2 separate regions of the Homo sapiens genome follow, and region 1 is linked to region 2. A link means that fine-mapping ties the variant in region 2 to the expression of a gene that starts in the linked region. Tissue or cell type: whole blood. Region 2 holds a variant in brackets; the other region holds the start of a gene. All regions are shown on one strand. Distances are from middle to middle.

What was found. PIP is the estimated chance that this variant, and not a neighbour inherited with it, causes the effect.
Region 1: it holds the start of GSPT1, and the variant in region 2 is fine-mapped to the expression of GSPT1 in whole blood (TOPMed, PIP 0.91).

Annotation. Positions count from the first base shown.
Region 1 is chr16:11,912,740-11,920,843 of GRCh38, forward strand. It overlaps GSPT1 (G1 to S phase transition 1), which reads right to left and starts at 3,217. Exons shown (of 15, transcript NM_002094.4): 1 at 2,630-3,217. The coding sequence starts at 2,981. RefSeq lists silencers at 2,347-2,396, 2,437-2,676, 2,767-2,836, 3,547-3,606 and enhancers at 2,661-3,598, 3,207-3,356, 4,657-5,157.
Region 2 is chr16:11,945,339-11,953,442 of GRCh38, forward strand. It overlaps a transcript of NPIPB2 not described here. Among named protein-coding and RNA genes, the nearest start is that of NPIPB2, 7.3 kb to the left of the region's middle. The variant G/A (reference allele first, on the strand shown) is at 3,256.

The DNA of each region.
Region 1 (8,104 bases), 33 kb before region 2:
ATTAAGCCTTGTCTTCTATATTTTTATTCACTTGGGGACCTCACTTTTTAAGGAGAATCTCTTGGCCAATTTACTTGGCTCTAGAGAACTGTGCTTAAATGAATTACACTTAATTACACTTAAATGGGTTCCACTTAATTATTTCTTAAGGAACCTATATTCTTTAGTTTTCAAAGAGATCCAAGGTCAATACTGAATCCCAAGGTCTGACTCTCCAGGCTCCTTCAACAGCTTTCCCGGCATGCAGTTTAAAAACACACCCAGCACAAATTTCGGCTATGGCTTAACTAAAGAACAGAACATGCTAGCCCTATTGTCCACTTCCTCGCTATCAAAAAAACCTTGCAAACTTTTTGGTTCCCCCTTTGTAAGTTCCAATCCAGGTGTTATTTCCTATTTATCCCCCTGCTTTTTATAAGCACTGATTGTTCTCCGATGCTGGCTTTTTATGGACTTAATAGTCTGGAACATGCAATCCAACAGTCTCAATATAACCCTGGACCTCAACTTAGAAAATCAGTTCTTTTCCAAATAGACATCCTACATAGGATAATTTTTTAAAAACATGAACTGGCATTTTGGTACAAGCAATTGGTAAAGTCGGTAACACCAAAATAGTTTTTTGATTAAAAACAAGAAAGTTGACCATGCTGTACGGATTCTCTTACTGACAGCTACTTCCCTACAGGTTTTCGCATCTCCAATTTCTAGCACTGTCAAAGAGAAAAAGATTAGGTGTAACTACAAATTAGCAACTATCAGGAAGAGAGAAAGCCCGCATAAGAGGTAATACCTAGTCACCAACAGTGACCATTCTAGACCAAGGTTGGTTATCCCCGGATGACTCGCTGGACAGGCTGTAAATGGAGTCCTGAGTCTAGTCAGAGTGGTGCTGGTGGCTCCACAGAAAGGAGGAAGAGCCAAGAAAGAAAATGGCTGGATAAACGGAATCTGCAAAGTAAGGTAGGGAATGGGCACTTTTAGGAGCTGAGAAGTGAACTAGGTTAGGCAGTCAAAATGGCTTGATGTAAGTCAAGAATTACAAGCTAAGCTTCCTTATTCAAGAGGAAAACATTGTCTAGAGCCGTACCACCCTGAAAGTGCTCGATCTCCTCAAAAGAAAACATCAACCACCCACACAAATAAATGCCACTGTCAACAAAACCACCAAATCAACCGTGCTGACGTACATACGTCATCAGAGTGTTTCTCCAGACACTATCCCTTTACCACGAAAGAGCAAACGGTGACAAAAGTTTCTGTAGAAACCAAACTCCTGGAGCACTTTTATAATGTCCACTTATCTAAGAACCACCACAATACAGAACTTTAAAGAGAGAAATCAACAATATGTTCTCACTTAAAATGCGCTGGATGTCATGACCCACCCCACTAACGTCCTGGCTAAATGATGAAAGGACGTTCAGCCTTTTCCTTCCTTTTTCATTTTCTCTTTAAGGAAACACTGATAGTTCCTAAAATAAGCACCATTAGGAAGAGAATACTTAAGTTCACTCATTTGACATTCCCACAAAATCAGTACCTGAAAGCAAGCTACCTACCACAAAATAAGCACCATTATGAGAATACATAAGTTCACTCACCGGATATTCCTACAACGTCAGCACCTGCAAGCATGCTACCTACGACTTAAGCAACCCCTAAGTACGGGAAGATGTTTAAAAACCAAAGTTAACTCGAAATTTTATGGATTAGAAAATGTATGTCTACTAGCTACGGTCAGAAAGACACGTGAGAACTATTAAATTATAACAAATGCTCAAGTGTCTGAAGAAATAGACTGAACTACTGATGCACGAACACAGTGAGTTATTCCAAGCAATCTGAATAAGGTCAACGATTTTACAGCAATGAAAATTCTCTAAACGTGTCGCTGACAAAGGATAAAAGTGTAAGCTTCACTTTAAAAAGACACAAATCAATATAGTCTCCTATCACACATTAAGTGAGGAATCCTAACTTTGTGGCACTTTGTAAACTTTAGAAGCGTACACAATGCTAAGGGTAAAACAGATCTTGGTATTGATAGCCAAGTTTCTGCCCGATCACAAGGCTGCAATGCATCTTGGGATTCCTTCAGGACGGTTGGGGGCCACGGACAGTTTAAACCGTAATTACAGTTTCAATAGTAGAAAACGCAGCAGAAGACGCTCTCTCGGCTGGGCCTAAGGTGAAAGGAAAACTCGGCCATTCGTCCTCCCCAACTCCTGGGATCTCTAAACGCCCACCCAAATGACTCCTGGCTCCATCTGTCCTCATTCTGCGCCTCGTGGCAGGGATCCGCCGCGGCCCCCACTCCGTTCCATACGGTTCCCATCTCAAGTGGGTAACTGCGGACTCCAGAGCAGGGCAGGGGCGCGGAGGGGCGGCACTCGGGTCCGGGTCTTTGGGCGCGCTGCCCGCTGTCCGCTCCCCGCCCGGCCACCGCCGCGGGCCGCCCCGCGAAGGCCGGCTCCCGGGCTCGGGGCGCCCCACCCAGGCAGACGGCGCCACTGTCAGCGCCCCACGTGCCGACCGGGCCCCAGGGCCGCGCGCCCCCGGACCGCACCCCTACGCCATGTGGGCTCCGGCGCCCGGCCGGACTTCCTCCCGCGTCCCGGGCCTTTACCCGCACGGCCTCCCGCGCCGCTGCCGGCTCCGTGGTTATTGGCGGCGCCGCCAACTGGGGGTGGCGGCGCTGCCGGGCCCCGCAGGAAGGACGGCACGAACTCGGCGGCGTGGACGTTGGGCACGAAGGGCTTGGCGTTGACGTTGAGTTGCCGGCTGAAGGCCGCGCTGAGGTTCTCCCGCTGGGCCTCGGCCGCCGCCGCCAGGGAGCCGCCGCCGCCGCAAGGGCCCGGCCCGGGGGCTTCCATGTCCGCCTGGTCCCAGCAGTCAGGCGCCGAGTCGCTGCTGCTGCTGCCGCTGCTGCTCCCGCCGCCGCCGCCGCCGCCGCCGCCGCCGCCACTGCCCGGATCCATGATCGGGGGGGCCGTGTGTGTGGTGGACAGAGAGCGGGAAATGGAGGCAGGGGCGCCCGGCCGGAGAGGAGTGGGCAACGCTGACTGAGGGAAGGCGGCGGGGCAGAAGGGCCGGGAGCTAGCGACAAAGATCCCCGGCGTCGCCGCGGCAGCAGCTCCAGTCCCGACTCCACACTCGCGACGACGACAGAGGCGGCGGCGGCGGCAGCTCAACCCTCCTCCTCGTGTGTGTGAGCGGATCTCCTCCCACCCAACCACCTCCGACGGCCTCACAGCCAACCCCACCCCCGGCGCGGATTGACCCCTCGCCGCCACCCGTACCTTCGCCTCGGTAGTTCTCTGTTCTGGCCGCCCCCGTTTCCGGCTATTTAGCGCGGCGGGAGGTGGAACTACAAGTTCCGGCAGCGCCCGCGCTACCCCGCTGCGGTTTTCCCGGGGGCCGACGGGAGTCGAAGTTCAGGGACAGGGCGCAACCGGAAGCGGCTCCGGCTCCCGGCAGGCAACGCGAGGAGGCGGAGGTCTGGTGGCCGCTCGGCGGCCCCACCTGTCACCTGGTGGGGGGGCAGCGGCAGGCCCTGGTTGGTGCAGCTCTGTGCTGGGCCGAAGACCGAGAGTATTTTAGCCCATAGGAGGGGTCCACTCTGGCCTGCTGGACACAGGCTGGGGGAAAACGGACAGCATCTATAACATGGGGAAGAAAAATACACTCAGCTCCCGAAAATTCTTGTACTCTCTTTTCACCACCTTTCCTGCGTTCTCTGCCTCACAGTCTCCGTACCTTATTCTCTCTCCACCTTCTTTCTCCTCACCCCCAGCCAGATTTTGCCCTTCATTTCAAAGCCGGTGCAGATTGCAAAGCTGATTTCATTTTATGTAATCATTTCGTGGAAGAAACAATAAAACCGTGAGATATTCCGGCTTAAAACTGCAGTGTGGCTCATAAAGCGCTGGGGCCCAGGCTCTGCCCAGGCAGAAGGGATTGTTAACTGGAAAATTTCAATGACTCACCGTTTGTTTGACTAGTCATATAAAGCCTTCACCCAAATTTTTCCATCCTTTCCTCCTCCCCGCCAAAGGGTTTGCAAATTAAACAGAGGATTGCCGTATTCCATGGTGTATCCGGCTTACCTAACAGGGTTATTTTGGTGAGTCTAGCTTCCTTATGCACCATTACGTGAAGTGGTTTCCTTTTGAATGGTCTGATTTGCTCAAGAATTCCCATAGTACTTTTCATCGACTGCATCTTACACTTACAGATTAGGTAAACCTGGGAAAAGAACAAAAGCAAACGAGAAATACTTAAGAGTTCGCATTTAGGCCCTTCATGAAGTAGGAAAAAATGTTGCTCTGAGTACCTGTTAAGCTTTCCTGTAATTCACCCATGTGGAGCCCAAGACAGAGAAAAACATATTGTTAGTATTTTTCTGAAAGGAGTCTAGACAGGGTGCAACTAATCTGCCTAGAAATTACAGACTAAAGAAGCACATACATAGAATAGATGTTTCTGAACAACCTTAGGTTGTTAAAAAAAAAAAAAACCTAACAAAATCCAGATCTAGATCTGTATTTTAATTTTCTTTTTTCTTTTTTTTGAGACGGAGTCTTGCTCTGTAGCCCAGGCTGGAGTGCAGTGGCGCGATGTCGGCTCGCTGCAAGCCCGCCTCCCGGGTTCACAACATTCTCCTGCCTCAGTCTCCGGAGTAGCTGGGACTAGAGGCGCCCGCCATCACGCCCGGCTAATTTTTTTTGTATTGTTATTAGAGACGAGGTTTACACCGTGTTAGACAGGATGGTCTGGATCTCCTGACCTCGTGATCCGCTCGTCTCGGCCTCCCAAAGTGCTGGGATTACAGGCGTGAGCCACCGCGCCCGGCCGATCTGTATTTTAATTTTAAACATCTGTATTGTAAAGATAAAAGAGAACTCAGCCTAATGAGATAGGTCAAAAACGAAGCTGTCAAGTATTTTTCAAAAGAGTCCTAGGCTACAGTAATTTGAATTTAATATTAAACTACCAAGCTTTAGGGATTAAAAAAACACATACCGGCCAGGCGCAGTGGCTCACACCTGTAATCTCAGCAATTTGGGAGGCCGAGGCAGATGGATCACGTGAGGTCAGGAGTTCGAGACCAGCCTGGCCAACGTGGTGGAACCCCCGTCTCTACTAAAAATACAAGTTAGGCCGGGCGCGGTGGCTCACGCCTGTAATCCCAGCACTTTGGGAGGCCAAGGTGGGCGGATCACGAGATCAGGAGATTGAGACCATCCTGGCTAACACGGTGAAACCCTGTCTCTACTGAAAATACAAAAAATTAGCCGGGCGTGGTGTGCGGGCGTCTGTATTGCCAGCTACTCAGGAGGCTGAGGCAGGAGAATGGCGTGAAACCAGGAGGCGGAGCCTGCAGTGAGCCGAGATCGCGCCACTGCACTCCAGCTTGAGCGACAAAGCGAGACTCTGTCTCAAAAAACAAACAAAAAAAGCGATCCACCTGCCTCAGCTTCCCAAAGTGCTGGGCTTATCGGTGTGAGCCACCACACCCGGCAGAGTTTGCCTCTGCTTAATAGGAAGTTTTGGTTATAGCCTATTATTATACCTGAAGACCTCACTGAATCATACTTAACAATGTCCATTTTAAAGTTGGTATTAAGTGACTGTCAGATTTACAGAGAACTTAACAACTGTTATGAAAATTAGAACTTCATTTATGCGAGACCTGTATTGCTATTGAATAAAAGATTTTCATCTTATATTCACAAGAAAAAATACAATGTGTTCTAAATGAAATGCCTTCTCTTTCCAGATTTTCACTCCCCACCCACCCACCCCTAAGAAAATGTCAACACAATCAGCTGACTCAAATAATGAACTACACATCCTTCTCTAAGCATTTTGTCTTTGAATACTACTCTCCTCCATGTAGCACTCCTACAGCACTGAATGATCACTTTCTCATAGGTTAGTTCTTCACATCTAATTGAATTAGCAGAGTTTCCTTCTGCCTGGTACTTTTTCTAGGGACAAAGGCAGAAACTGCTCAGACTGCTGCTTAGAAAAGCAGTTGATGTCATTAATTTCCTTGTCTCTGAATAGGATAATTATGGATATTCAGGAAAAAATCCACTCCATTGGTTTTCCAAAGCTTTGACCTGCCAAACAGAGCTCCAGCGGAAAAGGGAAAAGTCTTTCTTGTTAGTTGTGCTAAGTTGTGTGTAAGTTGTGCGACTTGAGGGCAGGGTCTTACCTTAATCTTCTTTACATTTCCACTGCCTAGTGTAATGCCCGGTGTATAAAAGGTGCTTAATCAATTTAGCTGGGATGATACTGTCCTTTGATACTCATTTAAGACTGCTGACACATAGGGCTAATAATTTTATTTATTTATTTATTTTTTAAATAACTTGAGACTCTTGAGACAGAGTCTCGCTCTGTCGCCCAGGCTAGAGTGCAGTGGTATGATCTCAGCTCACTGCAACTTCCACCTCCCAGGTTCAAGCGATTCTCCCACCTCAGCCTCCTGAGTAGCTGGGATTACAGGTGTGCACCACCACGCCCAGCTAATTTTTGTATTTTTAACAGAGACGGGGTTTCACCATGTTGGCCAGGATGGTCTCAATTTCTTGACCTTGTGATCTGCCCTCCTTGGCCTCCCAAACTGTTGGGATTACAGGCGTGAGCCACCACGCCTGGCCTGTATTTTTTTTTAGTAGAGACAGGGTTTCACCTTGTTGGCCAGGCTGGTTTCAAACTCCTGATCTCAAGTGATCTGCCTGCCTTGGGCTCCTAAAGTGCTAGGATTACAGATGTGAGCCACCGCACTTAGCTATTTTAATTTAATTTAATTTTATTTTTTGAGATGGAGTCTTGCTCTGTTGCCCAGGCTGGAGTGCAGTGGAGCAATCTTCACGCACTGCAACCTCTACCTCCCAAGTTCAAGCAATTCTCCTGCCTCAGCCTCCTGAGTAGCTGGGATTATAGGTGCCCGCCACCCCCCCTCCCCAACCCCCTGGTAATTTTTCTATTTTTAGTAGAGACAGGGTTTCACCATATTGCCCAGGCTGATCTGGAACTACTGACCTCAAGTGATCCTCCTGCCTCAGCCTCCCAACGTGCTAGGATTACAGGCATGAGCCACCACACCCCACCCCAGGACTAATAATTTAGAAAACTTAGGAAAAATCAGAGTTTTTCCTACTCTCACACACAAGTCACCGCTCAACACAGAGTACAGTCCTCTCTGGGTAGAGGAAGGGGATTAGTTCCAGGAGCCCTTCAGATACAAAAATCCAACCATACTAAAATCCCACAATCTATACTGTGTGTATGAAAGGTCAGCCCTCCCTACACTTGAGTTCCTGCATCCTGAGAATCCCGTCTTTTTGATCCTCATTTGATTGAAAAAAAAAATCCATGTGTAAGTGGGACCCTCGCAGTTCAGGCTCACATTGTTTAAGGGCCAGTTGTACTCCACCAGTAAGTGAGGGAGTTTCTACCCACCACCAACCAATTCTTCAACAGACACCAACAGGATAAGCAATCATTTCACTCAATTCTGACATTAACCAGAGTTAGGACAGATCCCACAAGTTAAGGGATCAGTCCCACAAGACTGCCCCCACTTCCAATGCCAATAACAGGTTCCACATTGTGACCTGTGCTTCTGACCAACTGGCTATGAATTGGGGGTTCCCATGACCCCCTCCATGGGTTCAGGGAATTTGCCAGAGTGGCTCACAGAACTCAAGGAAACAGGGCAAACACGGTGGCTCATGCCTGTAATCCCAGCACTTTGGGAGGCCGAGGCAGGCGAATCACCTGAGGTCAGGAGTTTGAGACCAGCCTGGCCAACATGGTGAAACCCTGTCTCTACCAAAAAAATACAAAAATTAGCCGGTTGTGGTGGTGGGTGCCTGTATTCCCAGCTACTCAGGAAGCTGAAGGCAGGAGAATCGCTCGAACATGGGAGGCAGAGGTTGTAGTGAGCCAAGTGCTCCACCACACTCTAGCCTGGGCAACAGAGCAAGACTCCGTCTCAAAAAAAAGAACTCAAGGAAACACTTTACTTACAGTTACCCATAAAGGACATTACAAAGGATACAGAGGAACAGCCACGTGGAAGAGATGC
Region 2 (8,104 bases):
CCACTGCAGTCCAGCCTGGGCAACATAGTGAGACCGTGTTTCAAAAATAAATAAGCAGGGTGCAGTAACTCACACCTGTAATCTCAGCACTTTGGGAGGCTGGGGTGGGTGGATCACTTGAGGCCAGGAATTTGAGACCAGGCTGACCACGAAGGTAAAACCCCCATCTCTACTAAAAATACAAAAAAAATTAGCCAGGTGTGGTGGTACGTCCCTGTAGTCCTAGCTACTCAGGAGGCTGAAGCAGGAGAAACGCTTGAACCCGGGAGGTGGATGCTTCACTGAGCTGAAATCGTGCCAGTGCAATCCAGCCTGGGTGACAGAGTGAGACTCTGTCTTAAAAAAAAAACAAAAACAAAAACAAAATGCTGGAGTCATGCTGAGCATAGGGAATGTGAAGGCCCTGGATTAAGACAGGCTGAGGGAAGGACAGCTGTGCCCTCTCCTCCTTCTATTCAGCCCATGGGTTCTATGTTCTTACAGAGTGGAAGGCAGAAACCCCTGCATTATTTAAAGCATTATTCTTTCTGTCTGTCTCATTTCTGTCTCTTTCTTTCTCTGTCTCTCTCACATTCAAACATGCATAGTTGGATTTACCAAGTTAAATACAGGTATATTATGACTCCAGTGTTTGTAGCTTGTCAAACCATCCCCTCATGATTTGTTTCTTCCTGTGGCTTCTACAAAAAAAAAAAAAAGAAAAGAAAAAAAGAAAGAATGAAAGAAGAAAGAAAGAAAGGAAGGAAGGAAGGAAAGAACCCAGAGAGCTGGGCATGGTGGCTTATACCTGTAATCCCAGCACTTTGGGAGGCCAGAGCGGGCAGATCGCCTGAGGTCAGGAGTTCAAGACCAGCCTGACCAACATGTAGAAACCCTGTCTCTACTAAAAATGCAAAATTAGCCAGGCATGGTGGCACATGCCTATAATCCCAGCTACTTGGGAGGCTGAGGCAGGAGAATTGCTTGAACCCGGGAGGTGGAGGTTGTGGTGAGCCGAGATCGTACCGTTGCACTCCAGCCTGGGCAATAAAAGCTAAACTCTATCTCAAAAAAAAAAAAAAAAAAAAAAAGGTAAAAAATTAGCCAGGCGCAGTGGTGTGTGCCTTTAGTCCTAGCCACTAAGGAGGCTGAGGCTGAGGTGGGGGGATAGTTTTAGCCCAGAAGTTTGAGGCTACTGTGAGCTATGATTGTGCCACTGTACTCCAGCCTGGGCAACGGAGTGAGACCATATCTTTAAGAAAAGCAATGCATAATGAGATACTACTTCATATCCACTAGGATGACTAATACTCAAAAAGAGAATAATAAGTGGTGAGGCTATGGAGAAACAGAAACTCTCCCACATTGCCGGTAGGAAAGTAAAATGGGGCCTGCCACTTTGGAAAGCAGTTGGAAAGTTTAATAAAAATGTAAAGATAAATTGATCCAGCAATCTTATTCGTAGGTATCTCTGACTGAGAGGAATGAAAGCATATGTTTACACAAAGTAACATAAACTCGCCTCCTGAGTAGCTGAGATTACAGGCGCCCGCCACCACACCCGGCTAATTTTTGTATTTTTAGTAGAGATGGGGTTTCATCATGTTGGCCAGGCTGATCTCGAACTCCTGACCTGAGGTGTGATCCACCTGCCTCAATCTCCCAAAGTGCTGGGATTACAGGTGTGACCCACCTTGACCAGCCTAAATTCAACTATTTGAATTATATATATATATATATATGGTATATATATAAACATATATATAATATATAAAATAAAATTCAATTATATATATTTTAATTAAACAATTTTTTTTGTTCTGATGGAGTCTCACTATGATGCTCAGGCAGGTCTCAAACTCCTGGGCTCAGGATATCCTCCTGCCTCAGCCTCCCAAACTGCTGGAAGGTGTGAGCCACCATGCCCAGCCAATGGTTGAATGGTGTGTGTGTGTGTGTACATAGGTACATACACATATTTTATTTATTTATTTATTTATTTATTTATATATATATATATTTATTTATTTATTATTTATTTTTGAGAGATGGAGTCTCGCTCTGTCGCCCAGGCTGGAGTGCAGTGGCGCGATCTCGGCTCACTGCAAGCTCCACCTCCCAGGTTCACGCCATTCTCCTGCCTCAGCCTCCCGAGTAGCTAGGACTACAGGCGCACGATGCCACGCCCCGCTAATTTTTTGTACTTTTAGTAGAGACGGGGTTTCACCGTATTAGCCAGGAGGGTCTCAATCTCCTGACCTCGTGATCTGCCCACCTCGGCCTCCCAAAATGCTGGGATTACAGGCGTGAGCCACCGCTCCTGGCCACATATACATATTTTAAAGAGTGATCTTCATCAGAAATTCTAGATGAAAAAAATAAAAGTAAATATAATTTTTTAAAAAAAGAATAAGGAAATGTTTTCCCAAATGCCTCTGACAAATTACCCCTTGTGATTTATTGGCCCAAGGTGTGGCATGGGGACTGGCTTGCACTGACCGGCTTCGTCCTGGGTTCTGGAAGGGAGCAGCTGGTCATGGAAGCTGGGGCTAGCATCAGTGCCCGTGAAGCATGTGGGCTGTGGGTAGGGACCATTACCTAATCAAAAAATCAGGGGATTGCAAGAAGGTGAAAGCGGATACTAGGTGGACAACTACTAAGGTGTCAATTACACCCAAGACTGGCCACTAGATACAGACCCCTCCCCCTGCATTCTCCAGCCCGTTATCCACATCCTGTCTCCTACTTCTCTGCCCACTATGGCAAAGGGAGGCAGAGTGGGGGTGGGAAGAGTCACTGCCTAAAACATGGCTTTCCTGCAGGGTGACCAGCTGTCCTGGGACTGAGTGGTTTCCTGGGCCATGGGACTGAAGGTGCCAAAACGGGGGAAGTTCCAGGTGAACTGGGAAGGGTTGGTGACCTGGTCACCTCACCAAACAGAAATAAAGAAGCACTCCTAATGAACTGTGGATCCTGTCATCAAGCACCAATGGCTGCCGATACCACAAAGAGACAATTGGTCATTGTGCGTCTGTGAGGAAAGCACGCTCAACACCATTTTTGAAATATTTTTTGGCAAAAAGACTGAACATAAATACAAACAAGTCTGTAGATCCAAGTACCAATTCATAGGAAATACAGACTGTGGAGTGTGTAAAATGGAAACTTACTGGGCGCAGTGGCTCACACCTGTAATCCCAGCACTTTGGGAGCCCGAGGCGGATGGATCACGAGGTCAGGAGATCGAGACCATCCCGGCTAAAACGGTGAAACCCC[G/A]TCTCTACTAAAAATACAAAAAAATTAGCCGGGCGTAGTGGCGGGCGCCTGTAGTCCCAGCTACTTGGGAGGCTGAGGCAGGAGAATGGCGTGAACCCGGGAGGCAGAGCTTGCAGTGAGCCGAGATCCCGCCACTGCACTCCAGCCTGGGTGACAGAGCGAGACTCCGTCTCAAAAAAAAAAAAAAAAAAAAAAAAAAAGAAAGAAAAGAAATATTAGCTACTTCAGAGGTTTGCTGTGAGCATTGAAAAAGGCAGTGATTTGTTGGGTGTGGTGGCTCATGTCGGTAATCCTAGCACTTCGGGAGGCTGAAGTGGGTGGATTGCTTGAGGCCAGGACTTGGAGACCAGCCTGGGCAACATAGCAAGACACTGTCTCTACAAAAAATTTGAAAATTAGCTGGGTGTGGTGCCTGCCGCATGCCTGTAATCCCAGCTTCTTGTAAGGGAGGCGGCTGAGATGGGAGGATTGCTTGAGCCCAGGAGGTTGAGGCTGCTGTGAGCCATGATGCTGTGATCGGGCCACTCTACTCCAGCCTGGGCAACAGAGCTAGACCCTGTCTCAAAAAAAGAAAAAGAGAGAGAAAGGCTTTGGTAAGGGCTTAGTAAATGTCAGCCACAGTAGTAATGACAGCAATACTTGCGAAGCCTTTTCTATTTTATTACTGTGCACGTCGGTGATCTCATGCAATCAACTCAGCAACCTTGCAAAATAGGTATCATCATCTCCATTTAAAAAGCAAGAAACTGAGGCTTAGCAAGGTGAAGTTGTGTGACCAGCGCTACATAGCTGGTAGGAGGCAAAGCAGATTCCCACCCAGGCTCATGTGACACCAGGGTCCTCCTGAGATGTTAGCCTCAGTGAAGTTTTTAGCCCAGATCTTCATCTCCTCTTGCCAGGATTTCTGCTATTCAAATGCAGCCACAGGAATCCGAGAAGAACCCGGATAACTAAATCAGCAGCAGCTTATTCAGGCTGAGAAAATATACAGCAGCCCTGAGAATGCAGCTTATCTTGCTTTGGGCTTACTTTTGAGTGACAGGCTCTTTTAGCCAAGCCCTGGCCAGTCTCCTCACTTGAGCCCTGGCTCACCTGAGCCAGCCTCTCAGAGCCTTATGGAGCTGGCTGGACAGCATTGGAAGTAAAGGGCAGCCTTGCTCCCTCTTCTTTAACACCGTTTAGGATTTCTGTGTAGTTACCCAGAGCGACATTGGGTGTCACCTTTGAGTCACTTGAAGCCAGTTTCCCCCAGAGGTTGATGAATGCGGCCTTTCCCCAGAGATTCTGGTTGTCTAAGATCTATCTGCTTTGGAGATACAGTATATTCATTGCCAACACTTGTGCCCCCGACTTAACAGGAATATCTGGTTCTCATTTGTCCTCAAAGAAGAGTGTTCTCTGCAACCACATAAGCCTTGAATTTGTTTTTTAATTATTATTTTTTATGTTTTATTTTTTCCGAGATGGAGTCTCGCTCTGTCACCCAGGCTGCAGTGCAGTGGCATGATCTTGGCTCATTGTAGCCACCTCCCGGGTTCAAGGGATTCTCCTGCCTCAGCCTACTGAGTAGGTGGGATTACAGACACCTGCCACCACCCCTGGCTAATTTTTATATTTTTAGTAGTAGTGATGGGGTTTCGTCCTGTTGGCTGGGCTTGTCTTGAACTCCTGACCTCAGGTGATCTGCCCACCTCAGCCTCCCAAGGTGCTGGGATTACAGGCATGAGCCACCACGCCTAGCCTAATTAATTTTTTTCTAAGAGATAGGGTCTTATTATGTTGCCCAGACTGGTCTCGAACTCATGGGCTCAAGCAATCCTCTTGCTGCAGCCCCCCAAAATGCTGAGGTTATAGGCCTGAACCACCATGCCCGCTAAGCCTTGAATTTGAAGATGGGCTTCATGCCTGATGACTTTGCAAATGACTTCTCTTCTGAGGAAAGGAGGACGCTAACATAAGGACGAGAGAGAGTTTATGCAAAGTCCCTACCAACTCAGAGCCCTTTTCTCCCAATGTTCTTTGCACTCTGCCCACACATCTGTTTCCAAGCCTGGCTGTGAATAACAGTGAACAACTTGGGGGCCAGGACTCTTTTCTACCGCTCCCTCCCTCCTCTCATCCTCCCTTCCTTCCTTCTCCCTTCCAGCCCATAAATATTTACCAAGTAGATATCATGTGTCAGACACTGGGAACATAACAGAGAACAAAACAAAAGTTCTCTTTCTTCGTGGAATTTACATTAAAACTTCTTATTTCTCTGTATGTTCTCAGCATCTAACTGAGAAGGTGCTGAGAACATACAGAGAAGTAAGACATTGGATGGCTTGGCTAACACTCTTCTTTCTAGTTTTTCCTATGCATATACTAACATATATACATGATTTTTTTGCATGTAAAATATGTTTTATTGTTCTTTAAAAGGATTCAGGGTTTAGTTTTAAATCAGGCTGCACACCTTTCAAATCAATTTGACATCTCTCTCACTATGTCAAACTGGCTTCAGTTAGCAATACCTCATTAAATCTAAAAGAAAAAAAATTCTTTTAAGAAAATTCAGTTTCGAGAAAAATTAACATTACTCGGCCGGGCGCAGTGGCTCATGCCTGTAATCCCAGCACTTTGAGAGGCCGAGGCGGGTGGATCACAAGGTCAGGAGATCGAGACCATCCTGGCTAACACGGTGAAACCCCGTCTCTACTAAAAAATATATAAAAAAAAAAATTAGCCGGGCATAGTGGCGGGCACCTGTAGTCCCAGCTACTCGGGAGGCTGAGGCAGGAGAATGGCGTGAACCTGGGAAGCGGAGCTTGCAGTGAGCCGAGATCATGCCACTGCACTCCAGCCTGGGCGACAGACAAGACTGTCTCAAAAAAAAAAAAAAAAAGAAAGAAAAGAAAAATTAACATTACTCAGAATTCAAAACAAAGTGAGGGCTAATATTTCATGGTTCTTTATACATCCTTCTCCTCAATACAGAACCAGGAATGTAGCAGGCACTGGCACTGATACAGATGGACACTGCACATACACATACACACACACACACACACACACACACACACACACACACACACCCAGCCCCCAAACAACAAAATTCAGAGTATGTCAAAGGGAAAAGGTTTTTTATGGTATTGATAGAAACCCCTGGAGTAGGCCAGGTGCGGTGGCTCACGCCTGTAATCCCAGCACTTTGGGAGGCCGAGGCGGGCGGATGATGAGGTCAGGAGATCAAGACCATCCTGGCTAACAGGTTGAAACCCCGTCTCTACTAAAAAATACAAAGAGGCTGGGCGCGGTGGCTCACGCCTGTAATCCCAGCACTTTGGGAGGCCGAGGCGGGCGGACCACAAGGTCAGGAGATCGAGACCATTCTGATTAACACGGTGAAACCCCGACTCTACTAAAAATACGAAAAATTAGCCGGGCGTAGTGGCGGGCGCCTGTAGTCCCAGCTACTTGGGAGGCTGAGGCAGGAGAATGGCGTGAACCCAGGAGGCGGCGCTTGCAGTGAGCCAAGCCATTGCACTCCAGCCTGGGCGACAGAGTGAGACTCTGCCTCAAAAAAAAAAACAAAAACAAAACAAAAAAAAAAACAAAGAAAAAAATTAGCTGGGTGTGGTGGCGGGCGTCTGTAGTCCCAGCTACTCGGGAGGCTAAGGCAGGAGAATGGTGTGAACCGGGGAGGTGGAGCTTGAAGTGAGCAGAGATCGCGCCACTGCACTCCAGCCTGGATGATAGAGCAAGACTCCGTCTCAAAAATAAAAAATAAAAATAAATAAAAAAAGAAACCCCTGGAGTCAACAGTCTATCTTAGCAGGTATGCCGTTTTGATCTTGAATCTATATGAAAGAATCTGTTGTCATGTACATGATATTTACATTTCAAATGGAAATAGGACCCACCTTAACAATATTCGATGACTAACCCCTACACCCGAAACTTAGTAGTGTACTACGGCCATCTTTCTTTCTCTTTTTTTTTTTTTTTTTGAGACAGAGTCTTGCTCTGTCACCCAGGCTGAAGTGCAGTGGCACAATCTCGGCTCACTGCAACCTCTGCCTCCAGGATTCAAGCGATTCTCCTTCCTCAGCCTCCTGAGTAGTTGGGACTACAGGCACGTGCCACCATGCCTGGCTAATTTTTGCATTTTTTAGTAGAGATAGGGTTTTGCAATGTTGGCCAGGCTGGTCTCGAATGCCTGACCTCAGGTAATCCACCCGCCTCGGCCTCCCAAAGTGCTGGGATTACAGGTGTCAGCCACCGTGCCTGGCCCTTATCGCCATCTTTCTTTGTTAGAACATAAAAATCTACTTCAATGTTTACATGTGCCCAGATGCTATTTGGGATCTCTCTGCCCCTTGGATTCTAAAAAGACTGACTTGAACCCCAAGTGTATTCCCTGTGGATTCTCAAGGTCAAGAGCACTAGAGTGCTCATGTTCTCATGGTCGCTTCTGGTCCCTGTTCAGGTCTCTGCTGAATTCATTCCATCAAATTTATTTAACCATTTGACGGACTTGGAGGACTTCAGTGCTGCATTGAAAACCCTAATTCATTCTGTATTTTTTTTCAAGGTGGAGTCTCACTTTGTTGCTCAGCCTGGAGTGCAGTGGCGCAATGTTGGCTCACTGCAACCTCCGCTTCCTGGGTTCAAGTGATTCTCCTGCCTCAGCCTCACAAGTAGCTGGGATTACAGGCACCTGCCACCACGCCCGGCTAATTTTTGGGTTTTTTGTTTGTTTGTTTTTGGTTTTGTTTTTGTTTTCTTGAGACGGAGTCTTGCTCTGTTGCTCAGGGTGGAGTGCAGTGGAGCAATCTTGGCTCACTGCAACCTCCGCCTCCCAGGTTCC